Regions from separate parts of the Homo sapiens genome. Here region 2 is linked to region 1. The links come from fine-mapping of genetic effects on gene expression. Tissue or cell type: whole blood. Region 1 holds a variant in brackets; the other region holds the start of a gene. All regions are shown on one strand. Distances are between the middles of the regions.

Region 1 (8,109 bases):
CTTTGCTTCTAAGTGTCAGAAAGCCCAATCCAAAGAGCTTAAGCAAAAAGAGGAATTCGCGGCTCATATAAGCAAAGAAGTCTAGAGGAGTGTCGTGCCCATCATTGAACCAATCGTTGTTCTTTCAGGAGAATGCAAGGCTCTGATTGGCCAAACCTGGGTCACATGTCACCCCCATTTCTGCTGTCCCAAGACCACTCAGGCTGGGGATGAGGGATGGTGCTGGAAGTGGGAAGGGGCGGGGTCTCCAAACTACAGTCCTGAACTTTCCCTGGAATTTTGGTGAGGGGATCCTGGGTAACCCTCAAAAACAAATTTCTATTAAGTAATGCCTACAATTCAGGGGGATAGGGATAACACAGATCCAGCAAAGAAATTCTAGGTTAAGCAGTCTGAGAAATGGGCAAAGAGCTAAGAATGTATAGTGTCATGCAAGGAAAGGTGACTAATATTTGTTTAGCACTGACCATGTGACAGGAGCTTTTCACACGATATATCATTTAACCCTCACAATAACTCTCAAATACATAGTTATTCCCAGTTAACAGAATCTTAGGGTAAACTGAGTCTCAGAGGGAATATGTAACTCACTTAGGCCACACAGTTCCTGGTGTCAAAAAAGGTTAGGGACTGCTTCATTAAAGGAACAAGGCTTTATTCATTTTTGTCTCCAGCGTAGGAAAGGGCCTTACTCATACTGTTCATCACTAAATATTTGTTAAATTAATGAATGAATAATTAATTGCATGAGCAAAAGATGAAAAACTGTATCCCAGGAAGAAATGAAGGTAGAGAAAGAACAGTAGGGGTGGGTTAGATTCAAACATGTTTTTAGGGCAGGTGGAAAGAGGTTGAAAATGAAAGAAAATGTTGATGATGAAGCAATGTTCCCTATGCAGTTCAAATTCTAGGAAAAAGCCTTAGATAAAAAATTTCAATATTTCTTCCCCCAGAGTGAGAGAGAGAGAGAAAAGTATGGCCTTGGGAGAGTCTGGGGTAGAGGGAAGAAAACCAAAAGCATTCTTTTCAGCTTCCTCGGTCTTCACTGTGAAAAAGTAAAGGTTCTCATTTCTACAACTGTGTCGAGTATACGCTGACCTGATGTTTTAATTCATGGCTCATCCTCACAGTACCAAGCATAGAATAGATGCTAAAATAAATGTATAAACTCACTGGGTTGAACTGAATGAAATCAAATTATCTTTTAGAAAAATTTGAATGTAGCCTTCAGAAAGGGCAGCTACCTATAAGCCTAATTTGATGGCTTGCCAGGACTTTGGTAGGTGCTGTGGGAAGATGGAGGAAGGCAGTACAATGTGCCCATGTTATCTGTTCTACAGAATATCTTTGCTGGGCAAATATCTCCTTATCATTTTCCTTTTTCAATGCAAGCTTCCACCCTACTTCTTCAGGACACCTGGGCTTGGGCAGTGATTACTAGGTTGACTGTTTGTAATAACAGGTCTGTCTTGGGAAATTATAGGCTGTGAGGTCTCAGAGGTTAGCAATCAGAAGAGATTTACTAAGCCTTCTCTGACCAGTTCCAGGGCTGTCCTCCTTAGCAGACTGACTCAGCCAGCAGTGCCACCTGTGAAACAGGTGGCAAGGCTGGTCACACTGCCTCTTTCCACATGCTATTCTGTCCACTCCCTAAGGGTCCCTGACACCAGCTGAGAGAGTGAAGCCTTGGCCTGCTGGGGATGCCTCCAGCTGCAGAAGGCAGCCTGACCTTGAATTCAAGCAGGCTTTAAATTCTTCGCCTCACAGAATGAGGTAACAGAAAGATGGATGATTACTGATTAGAACACTGTGACCTAAAAAAATTAAGTAATCCACAGTGAAAACTCATTCCCCTGTCTCTGTTTAGTCTCTGACAGGAATAAAGGATGGGATAAAGGGTAGGATAGGGAATGGGGTGGTGGCATCAGAGAGCCCCCTTTGGCCACCAGTAGGTGCCTTTATTGATGTGTTCCCATGAGAAGGAACAAAGAAAAGGGGTTGGAATAAAAAAGAAGAAAATCCTGTCATTCATGGCATAGATGAGCCTGGAGGACTTTATGTTAAGTGAAATACACCAAGCACTGAAAGACAAATACCGCATGATCTCACTCATGTGGGAGATAAAATAAATTTTTTGAGCCCATGGAAGTAGAGAGTAGAATTGTGAGTATTAGAGGCTGGGAAGGGTGGGTGAGGGAGGGGAGGAGGGTGAGAGTTCTGGTGCTTTGCGAATGTGGTTAATTATAATTTATTGTATATTCTCAAAAAGCTACAAGATGATTTTGAATGTTCACAACACAAAGAAATGGTAAGTGTTTGAAGTGATGATATGCTAATTACCCTGATTTGATCATTACTCATTGTATGCATGTATTAAAATAGCACTCCAGCTGGGTGCGGTGGCTCACGCCTGTAATCCCAGCACTTTGGGAGGCTGAGGCAGGCTGATCACAAGGTCAGGAGATTGAGACCAACCTGGCTAACATTGTGAAACCCCGTCTCTACTAAAAATACAAAAAATTAGCTGGGCATGGTGATGCGTGCCTGTAGTCACAGCTACTCAGGAGGCTGAGGCAGGAGAATCGCTTGAACCCGGGAGGCGGAGGTTGCAGTGAGCTGAGATTGCACCACTGCACTCCAGCCTGGGTGAAAGAGCGAGACTCCATCTCAAAAAAAAAAAGAAAAAGAAATAGCACTCCATATCCCATCAATTTGTACAATTATTACATGACAACTAAAAATAAAAGGAAAAAGCAAAGCAAAGAGGCTGGAGAGAAAGGAGTGTAATTCCATCCCTTTGTGGTAGTGGGGGTCCAGTAGGAGGCTGGGCTAGGCAGGGAAGCAAGGAACTCACTTGCCCAACTCCAGGGATTTCAGATCTTCCTGTTTGTACAAGCAGGTGGTTTATTTCTAAATAAGCTATTTTGGATTCTTACTTTGCATAGAGTTTGTACATGTTTTCTGCAAAAGCCCAGGCAGAGGCCTCTGGGAGGGGAGTTTGGTGATGAAGTCAGCCAGAATGAGGCTTTTGATATATGGAACTTTTGCCTGATTTCAAGCAATATATCTTCTGCTCCCTTTATTCTTTCCACTTTCTCAGCTCCACCAGCCACATGGTTTTCTTTTTTATCCAACAGGTATAGGTGAATCAACTGCCTCTCTATGGTAGAGTGTCTATTATTCTAACAAGGGCCAGCCCCAGGAAAAACTGCAGCAGTTGAAGTTCAGCTTCTCCTCTTCCTCCCTACCCTACCAACTCTGTAGCACAATCTAGTTGTCAAGGAACCCAAAACATTTGTGGTTTAA[T/G]GTGTGACCTTTCTCACAGTGTTTTCATCCTGATAGGCCTGTTACATTTTGCTTTCCTGTGCATTTTCTCATTTGGCCAGCAACCCTGTGAATAAAACACTCGTGAGCATTATCTCCCAAAAGGTATTTTGGACCACTTATGAAATTAACTGTCATCTTCTGAGAGCTTGCTACCTGCCAGTCACTGTGCTGAATGCCTTACATACCTCAACTAATCGTCATAATCACTGTGAAGCTGATACTCTTATCCCTAATTTCCAGAGGAGAAAGCTAGGTATACATAACTTGCCCAAGGTCACACAGCTAACTAGCGGCAAAATCAGGATTAAAGCCTGGGTCTGACCAAGTCCAAATCCTGTGCTCTTATCTCTTTCACCATTCTGCCTGTGCAGAAGGCAGGACAGGTATTAGTATGCCTGTTTTCTTTGTCTTTTCTTTCTTTCTTTCTTTCTTTCTTTCTTTCTTTCTTTCTTTCTTTCTTTCTTTCTTTTTCTTTCTTTCTTTCTCCTTCCTTCCTTCCTTCCTTCCTTCCTTCTTTCTCTCTCTCTCTCTCTCTCCTTCCTTCCTTCCTTCCTTCCTTCCTTCCTTCCTTCCTTCCTTCCTTCTCTCTCTCTCTCTCTCTCTCTCTCTCTCTTTCTCTCTTTCTCTCTTTCTCTCTTTCTCTCTTTCTCTCTTTCTCTCTTTCTTTCTTTCTTTCTTGAGACGGGGTGTCACTCCATTGCCCAGGCTGGAGTGCAGTGGCTCAATCCTAGCTCACTGCAGCCTCGACCTCTTTAGCTCAAGCAATCCTCCCACCTCAGCCTTCTGAGTAGTGGGGACTACAGGTATACATCACCATACCCGGCTAATTTTTGTATTTTTTTTTAGAGATAGCGTCTTGCTATGTTGCCCAGGCTGGTCTTAAACTCCTGGGCTCAAGCAATTCTCCCACCTTGGCCTCCCAACGTGCCGGAATTGCAGGTGTGAGCAGCTGCACCTAGCCATATGCCCATTTTCTAAAGAACTTTTTCTCTTTTAAAATGGAATTTCAGAGAACTATTTCACAGAACTCCCAGTGGCAGAGTTGGGGCTAGAGCCCCTTTAATAGATGACGACAGAAGAAAAATTCCTACCTCCTGATTGGGCCACCATGTAGGCTTCTAGGCACAGTAATAGGAAATGTAAAAACCTTCCTGTACCTCTCACATCATGTAGTCAGCACCTGACTCTTACTTCATAAATTGAGTCCACGTGGGGCGTGGTGGCTCACTCCTGTAATCCCAGCACTTTGGGAGGCTAAGGCGGATCGATCACAAGGTCAGGAGATCAAGACCAGCCTGGCCAACATGGTGAAACACCATCTCTACTAAACATACAAAAATTAGCCGGGCGTGGTGGTGTGTGCCTGTAATCCCAACTACTCAGGAGGCTGAGGCAGAGAATTGCTTGAACCCGGGAGGTGGAGGTTGCAATGAACCGAGATCACGCCACTGCACTCCAGCCTGGGCCACAGAGCGAGACCTGTCTCAAAAAAATTAAGTCCAAATAAAATGGAAGACTCTCCTCAACCACCTGCAATATGGCTTCCTCCCCTGCCACTCCATGAAATGGCTCCTCTCCACATCATCTTTGACCTCCTGGCTGAATCGTTTTTACTTCATATTTGTGTCTGTCTTGGCCTCTCTGCAGTGTTTCATTGCTTATTGAAACTCTCTTCTGTCTTGATTGTAGGGTAGCAGCCTGTCCTGGTTTTACTGCTACTTTTCTGGCTTCTCCTCAGCTTTTTCTCAAAGGCTCAGGTTTCGCTGACTACATTGGTCATGGTTCAGGTGCAGAAAGCATAGCCTTCCCTAGCTAGTTTAAGCCAAAAAGATTATTGCAAGGTATTAATTGGCTTACAGAATCAGTGGGAGAGCTGAAGAAGTGGATTTGAGGCTGAATTACTAGGAACAAAGTCACACTCAGAACTGAGTTGCCAGGGGAGTTGCTGCTTCTGCCACAGTTAGGGAGTGTCAGCTGAGCTAGCAAACTCACAACCTAGGGTTGCTGTGCTCCGCACAAGCAGAATAGATGCTTCCTGCCCTGCCCGCCTTGTGCCCCAACAACTCATTCAACTCTGAATTTGGAGTCTTATGTCAGTGTGTCTAATTGTCACAACCTAAGTCACATCCTTAGAAACTCTACCTGGGGAATTTGGAAAATGTAGTTTTTGGCTTCCCAATTCTGCAGTATGGGAAGGCATACTCAAAGGAGATTGAAATAGACATTGAGTCACTCAGTCAGTTAGGTTTTATTTTTTTTTCCTGTTGCAATATACCAATAACAGATAATATTCACCATGCATTACTCACTCCCTTGACTTAAATTCTGATGCAGTTTCCTAAAATTTAGCTGGAAAGTAAAGCATAGACCACAGACTACTCAGGGAAGGGGTATTATATTCATAAAAACATTTTATAAACATGTGAGTAAGTAAAATATTCACTTAATGATATACCTGTCCTATGAATGTTTTCTTCCTTTCTATTTTTTCTCTTTTTTAAACTAAAAATGTAATTATTGGAAAACATAAAGATAAATTGGAAATAAATATAAAGTTATAAAGAAGCACTACAATACTTAAATCTCCATTGGTATTAGAGGTTATATAGCGTTCTTCTCTAAGAGCTAGGACAAAGACAAGCTGGAATGTGAGTTATATGTGCTATTTCCTCAGCTCTGGCATTAACACCATTCAAAATAATATTTAAAAGCAAGTAGCAGGACGGGCATGGTGGCTCATGCCTGTAATCCCAGCATTTTGGGAGGCCGAGGCAGGTGGATCACGTGAGGTGGGGAGTTTGAGATCAGCCTGACCAACATGGAGAAACCCCGTCTCTACTAAAAATACAAAAAATTAGCCGGGCATGGTGGCACATGCCTGTAATCCCAGCTACTCAGGAGGCTGAGGCAGGAGAATCTCTTGAACCCGGGAGGCAGAGGTTGTGGTGAGCTGAGATCACACCATTGCACTCCAGCCTGGGCAACAAGGGCGAAACTCCGTCTCAAAAAAAAAAAAAGCAAAAAACAGGTAGCTGAGAGTGCTGTTATTAAAGGCATAGCCTGGTACCTATTTTAATTTATGTAAAGCAAGTCATTCACAATTTTAATTCTTTATTATTTTCCAGTTTTAAATACAACGTATATAGAAACAATCCCCATGTATGGGTGTGATTACCACTGTACCTTGCCATTCTGCATGCAAATCTGATTACATCATGCCTTGCTAAATAGCTTTCAGAGGCTCCACACCCCATTGAGATAAAGAGTAAGTTCCTCCAACTAGCATTTCACACCCTGTGTGAAGTGGCCCTTGCTCCAGCTCCTGCCATGTCTCCATATCCACACTCCATTCCAGCCGAAGCAAACCAATGACAAGTTTTCCAATGCACCATGCTCTTTTCTGACTCTGGCTCTTTGAAAGTATTGATCCATCTAGAGAGATTATCTTTCTCCCACTCTTGCCTTCTGAGAACTCTAAGAACTCCCCCAAGATACAGTTTATGTGTCACCTTCTCCCAGAAGCTCCGCCTGAAATCACTCTCAGCCCATACCCAACTCCCAGGCTGAATTAGGTGCCCTCTCCACGCCACCCTCCCCTCACCCTTCACTTTCTCCAAGGCTCCCTCAGCACCCTCAGCCATAGCACACTATTGTTAACTGTCTATTTACATATTGGTTCTTCCCATTAACTGGTCTGATTTTTAAAGTTGGAGGTTGATTTTACATAAATGTATTACTCCAAAATAGTAATGCCTAAACAAATATTTGTAAAATGAATGAGTAATCAACAAATGAACAAATGAATGAATAAAAATGTTGGCTTCTCTAGTACACAATCTACACATGCTTTATGCAATTTATAAAGACTATTCACTTGCCAATACAGAAAAAAAAATGATTTTGCATCTTATTGCAGGCATCTAAGTGTGTATTAGGTTAGCTAAAATTTGGCATCAAAGATCAGGTACAGTCACTCAGGCCTGTTATCCTAGCACTTTGGGAGGCCAAAGTGGGCGGATCACTGAGGTCAGGAGTTTGAGACCAGCCTGGCCAACATGGTGAAATCCTGTCTCTACTAAAAAATACAAAAATTAGCCAGGAGTGGTGGTGCACGCTTGTAATCCCAGCTATTTGGGAGGCTGAGGCGGGAGGATCACTTGAACCTGGGAGGCGGAGGTTGCAGTGAGCTGAGATCGCGCCATCGCACTCCAGCCTGGGAGACAGAGCGAGATTCTGTCTCAAAAAATAAAAATAAATAAAATCTTGGCATCAGAATTTCAGGAACTGAGAGCTTGTTAGGCAAGAAGACTAAATAAGTGGTCTTTAACTGGAGCTTATCCAGTGGTCCATGAACTCCCTGAAATGATATGCAAAATTATATTTATGTATTTGTGTAAGCCTGCACCTCACATTCATGTGTTCTCCTTTATAGGGCAGGTCAGCAAGGCTTCTTTGAAAGGAGGAGTGGGGCCTGGTGCGGTGGCTCACACCTGTAATGCCAGCACTATGGGAGGCCGAGGCAGGTAGATCACCTGAGGTCAGGAGTTCACGACCAGCCTGACCAACACGGAGAAACCCCATCTCTACTAAAAATACAAAATTAGCCAGGCATGGTGGCACATGCCTGTATGCCCAGCTACTTGGGAGGCTGAGGCAGAAGAATCACTTGAACCCAGGAGGCAGAGGTTGCCGTGAGCCGAGATAGCGCCACTGCACTCTAGCCTGGGCAACAGAGCGAAACTCTGTCTCAAAAAAAAAAAAAGAGAAAAGAAAAAAGAAAAG
Region 2 (8,093 bases), 48 kb after region 1:
ATCTAAAAGTCTTTGTTCCAGGACAGAATTAGGTATACAGATTACAGATGCTTAACTAATATTTGATTGTTTGGTATGGCTAAAGCTCTTCATCATTTTTAAAAACATTTATTTCTTTTTTCCCCTACCATGCCAATGTACATCATTTTATTACATTAAGGGACTGTATCTTTAAAAATGCATGCTTACAACAAATCTAGACAGATTTACAGAATGGAGTTATTATCAGAGCATTTCATATGCTATATTCATATTCACTCAATTTGTGTTTAATCATTTCCTTCTGCAAATCTGTGGTTCTAAGCATTGAAGCAAAGCTCTTCAGAGCATCAGTAAAGACTTGTACAATTAAGAATGGGGGCTCAGCCGGGTGCAGTGGCTCACACCTGTAATTCCAGCACTTTGAGAGGCCGAGGTGGGTGGATCATGAGGTCAGGAGTTCAAGCCTGACCAACATGGTGAAACCCAGTCTCTGCTAAAAATACAAAAATTAGCTGGGCATGGTGGCGCCTGCCTGTAATCCCAGCTACTCGGGAGGCTGAGGCAGGAGAATTGCTTGAACCCGAGAGGTAGAGGTGGCAGTGAGCCGAGATTGCACACTGCACTCCAGTCTGGGCGACAGAGCGAGACTTCGTCAAAAAAAAAAAAAAAAGAATGGGGGCTGGGCATGGTGGCTCACGCCAAGGTGGTAGGATCACTTGAGGCCAGGAGTTTAAGACCATTCTGGGCAGCATAGTGAACCTATCTCTCAGAAAGAAAAAGAATGGGGATGACTTCTTACGGACTAAGAAATCAGATTACTGAAATTAACCTTGGCAAATACCAATGAATCACTAATTGTTGGCAAGCCAACTGTGTTGTTATATTTAATGGGAAAATCATGATCACTGATGTTCTCTGTCTGGCTCCTGGATTTTCCGGCTCTTTTTAGCATATCTAACCGGAAGGACTCCAGGAAGCAACAGAAGAGTGCAAAAGGGAGACAAGAAAGGTGATCAGACTCGTTTATTTATTTATTTTTTGAGACAGAGTTTCACTTTTGTCACCCAGGCTGGAGTGCAATGGCGTGATCTTGGCTTATTGCAACCTCCGCCTCCTGGGTTCAAGCGATTATCCTGCCTCAGTCTTCCAAGTAGCTGGGATTATAGGTGCCGGCCACCATGCCTAGCTAATTTTTTTGTATTTTTGGTAGAGACGGGGTTTCACTATGTTGGCCAGGCTGGTCTTGAACTCCTGACCTCAGGTGATCCACTTGCCTCGGCCTCACAAATTGCTAGGATTACTGGTGTGAGCCACTGTGCCGGCTGACCAGACTCTTTTAAAAGAGTTTTATAAAGGAGTCCATTTAGTATTCCATAATGTTCTTTGAGCATGGAGTAAATGCATCTGATGGCTTCCAACACTGTCGGAATCCGAGCCAAACAACACCCTGCCTATGTTATTTTTTTTAGCCAATTGGACTTCCAGCAGAAAAAGGTCCCACTCAAGGAAGTGTCTGGGTTGGTTGTATTGTAAGTTTTTTGGTGGAAGTGGGAAGGGGGTTTGAATTTGGTTGTCTGAATTGTTTCAGAATGCACTACAGTGCTTCCTCCCCTTCTCCTATCCCTTGACTCCTCTCCAACTACCATTCACCACCACTACCAATGGTTAACATTTATTTAATGCTTACTACATACCAGGCACTTTTTTCAGTAGTTTACATCTGTTATGACTTCACTGGATACTTAAACATTTGAGTTAGATACTACTAACCTAATTTGAAAGGTGAAGAAACTGAGGCACAGAGTGGTTAAGTAAGTTGCCTAGTCGTGCAGGTAATATACAGAGCAGCCAGAAAGAGTAACCAAATCTGCCTGTCTTGGTGCTTGAAACTCTAGATGCTACAGCATCTGAAGATTCTGACTTCACACTGCAGAACTGTGAGGTTAGGGCAAGCCTGTGCCTACAGATTATTCCTTGAGCTGCTGTGACACCTGGAGGCATAGATTTGCTCACCTCCAAGCTTTGGTGGCCTTTGAGTAAATGTCAAAGGACTGCTAATGAATTATGGCACTTTCCTGAGTGCCTAAACAAGTTATTAATTACAGGGTATTATTTGAAATGTTTTGCAACATATAATGTTCATTAGTTTGAACAAAGGTATATATAATTTCTTGTAATAATATTTATTATGGATTTGTATTGTGTCTTTGGGTATTTTTTGGACCCTGAGGACATAGAAAAATGGCAGTATTACATCTATTTTGCAATCTCTTTGCAATCTTGTTTTCTTTCCATTCTCTTCCTGTATACTCTGCTCTCCAGGGAGCCCCCTAGCGTTTAGGCAGCCTTGGAGATGGGCTTGAGTCCATTAAAGTCTAGGGTGGAAAGAAAATTGAAATGGAGGAAAGCAGGAATGTGACCCAAGTATGGAAACTGTAGATACACTACTTTATTAGATTATATGTGCTTTTTAATTTTGAATCAGGATAGAGGAGGACTACGGGCTAAGCTCAGCTGGACTTTTTATGAGATATGTACAAATGCCCCTAATTTTTCTGTAGCAACAACCTGATTGATTTTGGGCAGTTTGCAGGTGTCGGGGATAACAAAGGAAATACATTTCCTCTGCTTAAAGATTTCATGCCCTAATGAAAGAAGGGAGAAACACCAATTAAATAGCGGTGTGTCCTTCACAGCTGAAGATGATTATATTGGGACAAATCAAGTCTTTATCAAAGACCATGGCATGATTAATTCATTAAATAGAATTGTCTTTACATAGTTTCCAAATTTGCCATTAGCTCATGGAATGTTAGAGTAAGACAGATTATCAGAGATATTCTAATTCAGTTTCTTCATCTTATACTGTATATAAGGAAACAAGCCCAGAAAAAAGTGTGAGAATCAAAGATGTGGTTTTCAGATTTCCACTCTTTTGGACTTTCTACTACAAATGACTCGACTTCTTTGCTAGTTTGAACTAAGCTTCCCGGTTCTTTTAGTGTTAATTTCAAATTGTTTCCAGAGCAGAGGATATCTCAGTACTCTGTCCAATAAGTTCATAAAATAAGAGTTATGAGTAAAAAGTCTTAATAAATCAGTAATTACCTCTTGCTATATAACGGCAAACAGTATCTTTATTCTAGAATTTTCTTTTTTTTTTGCCCGTTAATAAACATAAAAGCAAGCAGTCAAATGACAGCCTTTTTGCTTTGGCTAAGGATCGATTTATCTGCCCACTAGGATGGCACAAAACATACAGTAACTATAAACTGAATAATAACTAGAAATACATATACCCACACAAATAGATGGCCTATATATTTTGTTTAGGCAGATTATTCTTAGAATATTTATCAGTACATAGTGAGTCCTGAAGACTTTAAAACATAAGCTAATAGTTGGCTGAAATTTCAGATAAAGAATTATCAAATGTCTGATGTTGGGCAATCCAGTATTTCAGCTTCTTGTTCAGTAAAATTAAAAACACATGCTGGGGCAATGGGCTTGCTCTTTATTGTGCAGAGTGGTTACATGGGTGTAAGCACAGGTAAAAATTCACTGAGCTGTACACTTAAGATTTGTGCATTTTACTGTATATACATTATATCTCAAAATAAAACTAGAAATATAAGAAAAAGCCAACCACGACGGACTGAAAACAAACATACAAATTTGGACGTGCGATGATCTTTTAGTCATTATGGTTTCAGATTTGCTGTTAGTTACTGATTGATATTTAATCAAAGTGACGTGAAACACTTTTTCCCCTCTTGAGCTGATCGTTCAGTAAGCTAAGTTACTTAAAAGGATCTTGTGATCTTTTTATAAGACCAGAAAGCCTTTAATTTACCTGTTATTAAGTAAGATGGAGTAGTAACGGTTTCCAAAATTTGTATAACACACGATGAAGTCTCTAGGGGGCAGGGTAAACACAGATTTTTTTTTTCACTTCATCCTTCTCTGCGGCGATGTCTTTATGGAGTTCGTCAGGCAACGGTATCAGATAGCAAATGGGTTTTTAACTAATCTTTCCCTAAGGTACTGTAGTTCTATATTCTATCCTATAGATTCTCAAAATCCACTTTTACACTAGGATGCCACTGGAGGGCAGTTCTGATTTGGATATATCTTAAAAATGATTTGCTTTTATGTTTTCATCTCCCTGCGTTATAAAGCACCATCCTCTGAATTTGGTCGTTGCATCGGGTCAAAAGTTCTGCAGCTTGAAAAACCCTGCAAAAACATCCGGAAAGGAGGGAGAACACTACAACTCCCAGAACGCAATGCTTTCCCTCTCGCCAGCCTGTCCCCTCCAGCTGCTCAATGACCAGCCTCTGTGAGCCTCCTCTCAGCCCTATTGGTCAGTTTGCTCGTCAGTGAGTGAGGCGGAGGGAGGGGAGGAACAGAGAATCCCGGATGGTACGTTTCCCGCCACCGCGGGGCGCGCAGCGGAAAACCCGAAGAAGAAGAAGCTTTTGATTGGACAGTCGCTAGTCCGACCTCAGAGAACTCAGCCAATCATAATGCTTATATGCTCCCAAGGTCCCCGCCTCTTCCTCGAGGTAACCTTTGGTGGCGGGAAGAGTTCGGAAGTTTTCGCGCCGGGGTGGAGTCATCCTGGGAACCTCCACGCGACTTTGGTGGAGGTAGTTCTTTGGCAGCGGGCATGGCGGGTACCGTGGTGCTGGACGATGTGGAGCTGCGGGAGGCTCAGAGAGATTACCTGGACTTCCTGGACGACGAGGTGAGGGAGGCGCCGGCGCGCGGGCTCTAGCGCTCGGAGCCCCTGCGGACGCGGCCCGGCCGGGAAGCCAGAGGCCCGCCAGACCTCCAGACCGTGTGCCGCAGCGGAGCCTGCCGGGCCCGAGCCTCCAGCCCCAATCTTGTAACTTCTCAACGCCGGACTCGCTAGTTTGTGTTCGATAAGTGAACTCTTAGGAAGCCAGCTTTCTCTTAAGTACAAGCGATGGTCCGGGCGCGCAAAAGGCGACAGGTTCCCATTAAGTGCAAGCAGATTGGCAAAGCCCACCTCGGCCTTTTGCATTTCACTGCTCTCTCTTGATTTGAGGAGACTGTGGGGGAGGGGCTGCCCTAGGGCTATAGTGACCAGCCGCGTTGCAGAGTGCTCAGATTTTAGGGACTGACGTTTTACCTGGAGGAAAAGACTCCATAATTCGGCTGCATTCTTTTTCAATACCAACTAAGATGCAGATAAAAAGTGTTTTGTGTGCAGGCCAAGGGGATTTTATGTGCAACCCAAGACTTAAAGCCATAGAATGTTGAAAAAACCATCTTGAAGGGTTGATGATGTGACCAAATAGCTGAGATTCTCTATTCCTTTAGGTCGGGGTATGAGAACCCTTTCCGTATTATAGAGATGATTGGAAAAAATATTACTTTTTACATAATTCTTAAATGAAAAGCCATTTTAATGTGACTATTAAGAGTCTGTTTTATTTACATTTTTATTGTATATATTTGAAGTGCACATGTTTTGATATACATGGTGAAATGATTACTACAGTGAAACAACATATCCATCTATTCACGTTGTTACCTTTAACATTCACATTGCTAGGTTTAACTTAACATTTTAACAAAGTTTGCACTTACTGTCCATTTAGACTTCTCATGAGCTCATTTTAATTCTCCACTAAAGACAGAAATTACAGCATGCAGAAAAGTTGTCCATGATGATGGGAATAACAGCATGGACCTTGAGGAAGTCATTATAATTCTTATAGTCCCCTCTTAGGGTGTTATTTCGAATCTAAAAACAGTGAATGAAAGGGAGAAATTGATGAGCACATACTTACTGGGGATTCAGCTCTGCTGCAGAGATTGACTTAGCTATCTGGCTATGAGAACTACTTCTGTTTAGAAACATTGTTTTTAAATTTGTGGCTATGGTGATATGTGGTGGCTGTTTTGCAGGAAGACCAGGGAATTTATCAGAGCAAAGTTCGGGAGCTGATCAGTGACAACCAATACCGGCTGATTGTCAATGTGAATGACCTGCGCAGGAAAAACGAGAAGAGGGCTAACCGGTGAGAGGCAAGGGGATATACTGGCTGTCAGTGAGAATGGCTCCCTTCCCTCTTGGCCAGATTGGAACAGCCTCTCAGGAGAGGACTTGTATGAAACAGGATTGATCTACAAGCCCTCGTAGCTCACCTGCACCTATTTTTTTTTTTTTTTTTTTCAAAAAGTGGGTGGTTGGCATTTTCCTCCCAAATGCCCCTCCTTCCAATGTTTAGCTGAATATCATTTTTATATCTTTGATAAGTTGAGGTGAAGTTGGTCCTTAGTTCTGGTATTTTACTGAGTCTTATAGGATGGTGTTTTACTGAGACTTATAGGAGAAAGCAGAAGCTGGATTTTCTCATTGTTTTTAATGATCTAAGAATGTCTGCTGTTTTGAGGATCCATTTTTTTGAGTTCTGCCCAGTCTAATTTTTCTTTCTCTTGCTTATGTACAGGCTTCTGAACAATGCCTTTGAGGAGCTGGTTGCCTTCCAGCGGGCCTTAAAGGATTTTGTGGCCTCCATTGATGCTACCTATGCCAAGCAGTATGAGGAGTTCTACGTAGGACTGGAAGGCAGCTTTGGCTCCAAGCACGTCTCCCCGCGGACTCTTACCTCCTGCTTCCTCAGCTGTGTGGTCTGTGTGGAGGGCATTGTCACTAAATGTAAGTGGGTTAAAGGGGGCCGCTTAGGAAATGAATAGACAGGGAGATGGGGAAAGCAGGAGAGGCAAAGTAGATCTGGGTAGCTTGTGGCTTCAAAGAGGTGGAGCATTGGAATTACGTGGTAAAACTTGGAGGGCTCAGTGTGTACAATGATTGGGGGACCTTGAGTAATCACATGTATTAGTAGAATGATGAATTCTGCTGAGAGCTGGAGGAGTCTTGGTTCCTGGCAATCTCTAATTCCAACCTCTAACTCCACCTATTTATTAGTTGGGATTGGTGGTACTTAAAATTTTACATGGATATGGTGGTGGTCTATATATAAATAAAAAAGTGAATAAAAGGTAATATTGAAATATCGTAACCTAGTCAAAAAAACACAGTATTTGGAGTCATTATAGGCTTGCATATGTTTGGGTTCCACCTGTATCATCGTCTAGTTGGGTGAGTTTATATATGCACATTTTCCATCCCTAGGTTCTCTAGTTCGTCCCAAAGTCGTCCGCAGTGTCCACTACTGTCCTGCTACTAAGAAGACCATAGAGCGACGTTATTCTGATCTCACCACCCTGGTGGCCTTTCCCTCCAGCTCTGTCTATCCTACCAAGGTAAGGGGGATAAATCAGTTGAGCTGTCTTGGAGGTTGGAATCAAAGATACCTGTTTTAAGGCAAGGAATTGTGTAATATCTGAAGTCTTTTTTCTGTAAAGGGTGAAAAATAAGGATTAATCCAAAGGAAAGATTGATTGCAGGCCAGAGTTTAATATGAAAAGCCCACAATTCTTATTTATTTATTTATTTATTTTTAAAGATGAGGTTCTCCTATGTTGCCTAAGTTGGAGTGCAGTGGGTATTTGCAGGTGCAGTCATGGTGCACTAAATTTGCAAACTCCGGGGCTCAAGTGATCCTCCCAAGTAGTTGGGATTGCAGGCATGTGCTACGCCACCTGGCTTCACAATTCTTATTTTTTTTTTTAGAGACGGGATCTGTCTCTCTCAGGCTGGAGTGCAGTGGTGCCATTATAGAACACTGCAGCCTGAAACTCCTGGACTCAACGAATCTTCTCACCTTAGCCTCCTGAGTACCTGGGATTATAGGCATGCACCACCAGGTCCGCTAATTTTTTTTTTCACTTTTTTCTAGAGACAGGGTCTCGCTATGTTGCCCAGGCTGGACTGGAAGTCGTGGCCTCAAGTGATCCTCCTGCTTCCATCTTCCAAAGTATTGAGATTACAGACATGAACCACCATGCCCAGCCACAACTCTTATTATTTTTTTAAGAAAACACTTGTTCATTTTAGAAAATTAAGGAATAGTCAAAAGAAGAAGTCATCTACATAGATGTTTTAACAACGTTATAATTTTAGAATCTGCTTTTTAAAAAGTAGAAAAATAATGCTAGACTGTTATGTAATCTTT

Evidence for each region. PIP is the estimated chance that this variant, and not a neighbour inherited with it, causes the effect.
Region 2: MCM3 starts here. The variant in region 1 is fine-mapped to the expression of MCM3 in whole blood (TOPMed, PIP above 0.99).

The regions. Positions count from the first base shown.
Region 1 is chr6:52,329,185-52,337,293 of GRCh38, reverse strand. No RefSeq gene overlaps it. Among named protein-coding and RNA genes, the nearest start is that of PAQR8, 29 kb to the left of the region's middle. RefSeq lists a cis regulatory region at 92 and an enhancer at 8-177. The variant T/G (reference allele first, on the strand shown) is at 3,307.
Region 2 is chr6:52,281,233-52,289,325 of GRCh38, reverse strand. MCM3 (minichromosome maintenance complex component 3) reads left to right here and starts at 4,584. Exons shown (of 17, transcript NM_002388.6): 1 at 4,584-4,729; 2 at 5,920-6,032; 3 at 6,465-6,673; 4 at 7,151-7,281. The coding sequence starts at 4,652. RefSeq lists a silencer at 1,958-2,027 and enhancers at 4,107-4,306, 4,627-4,706.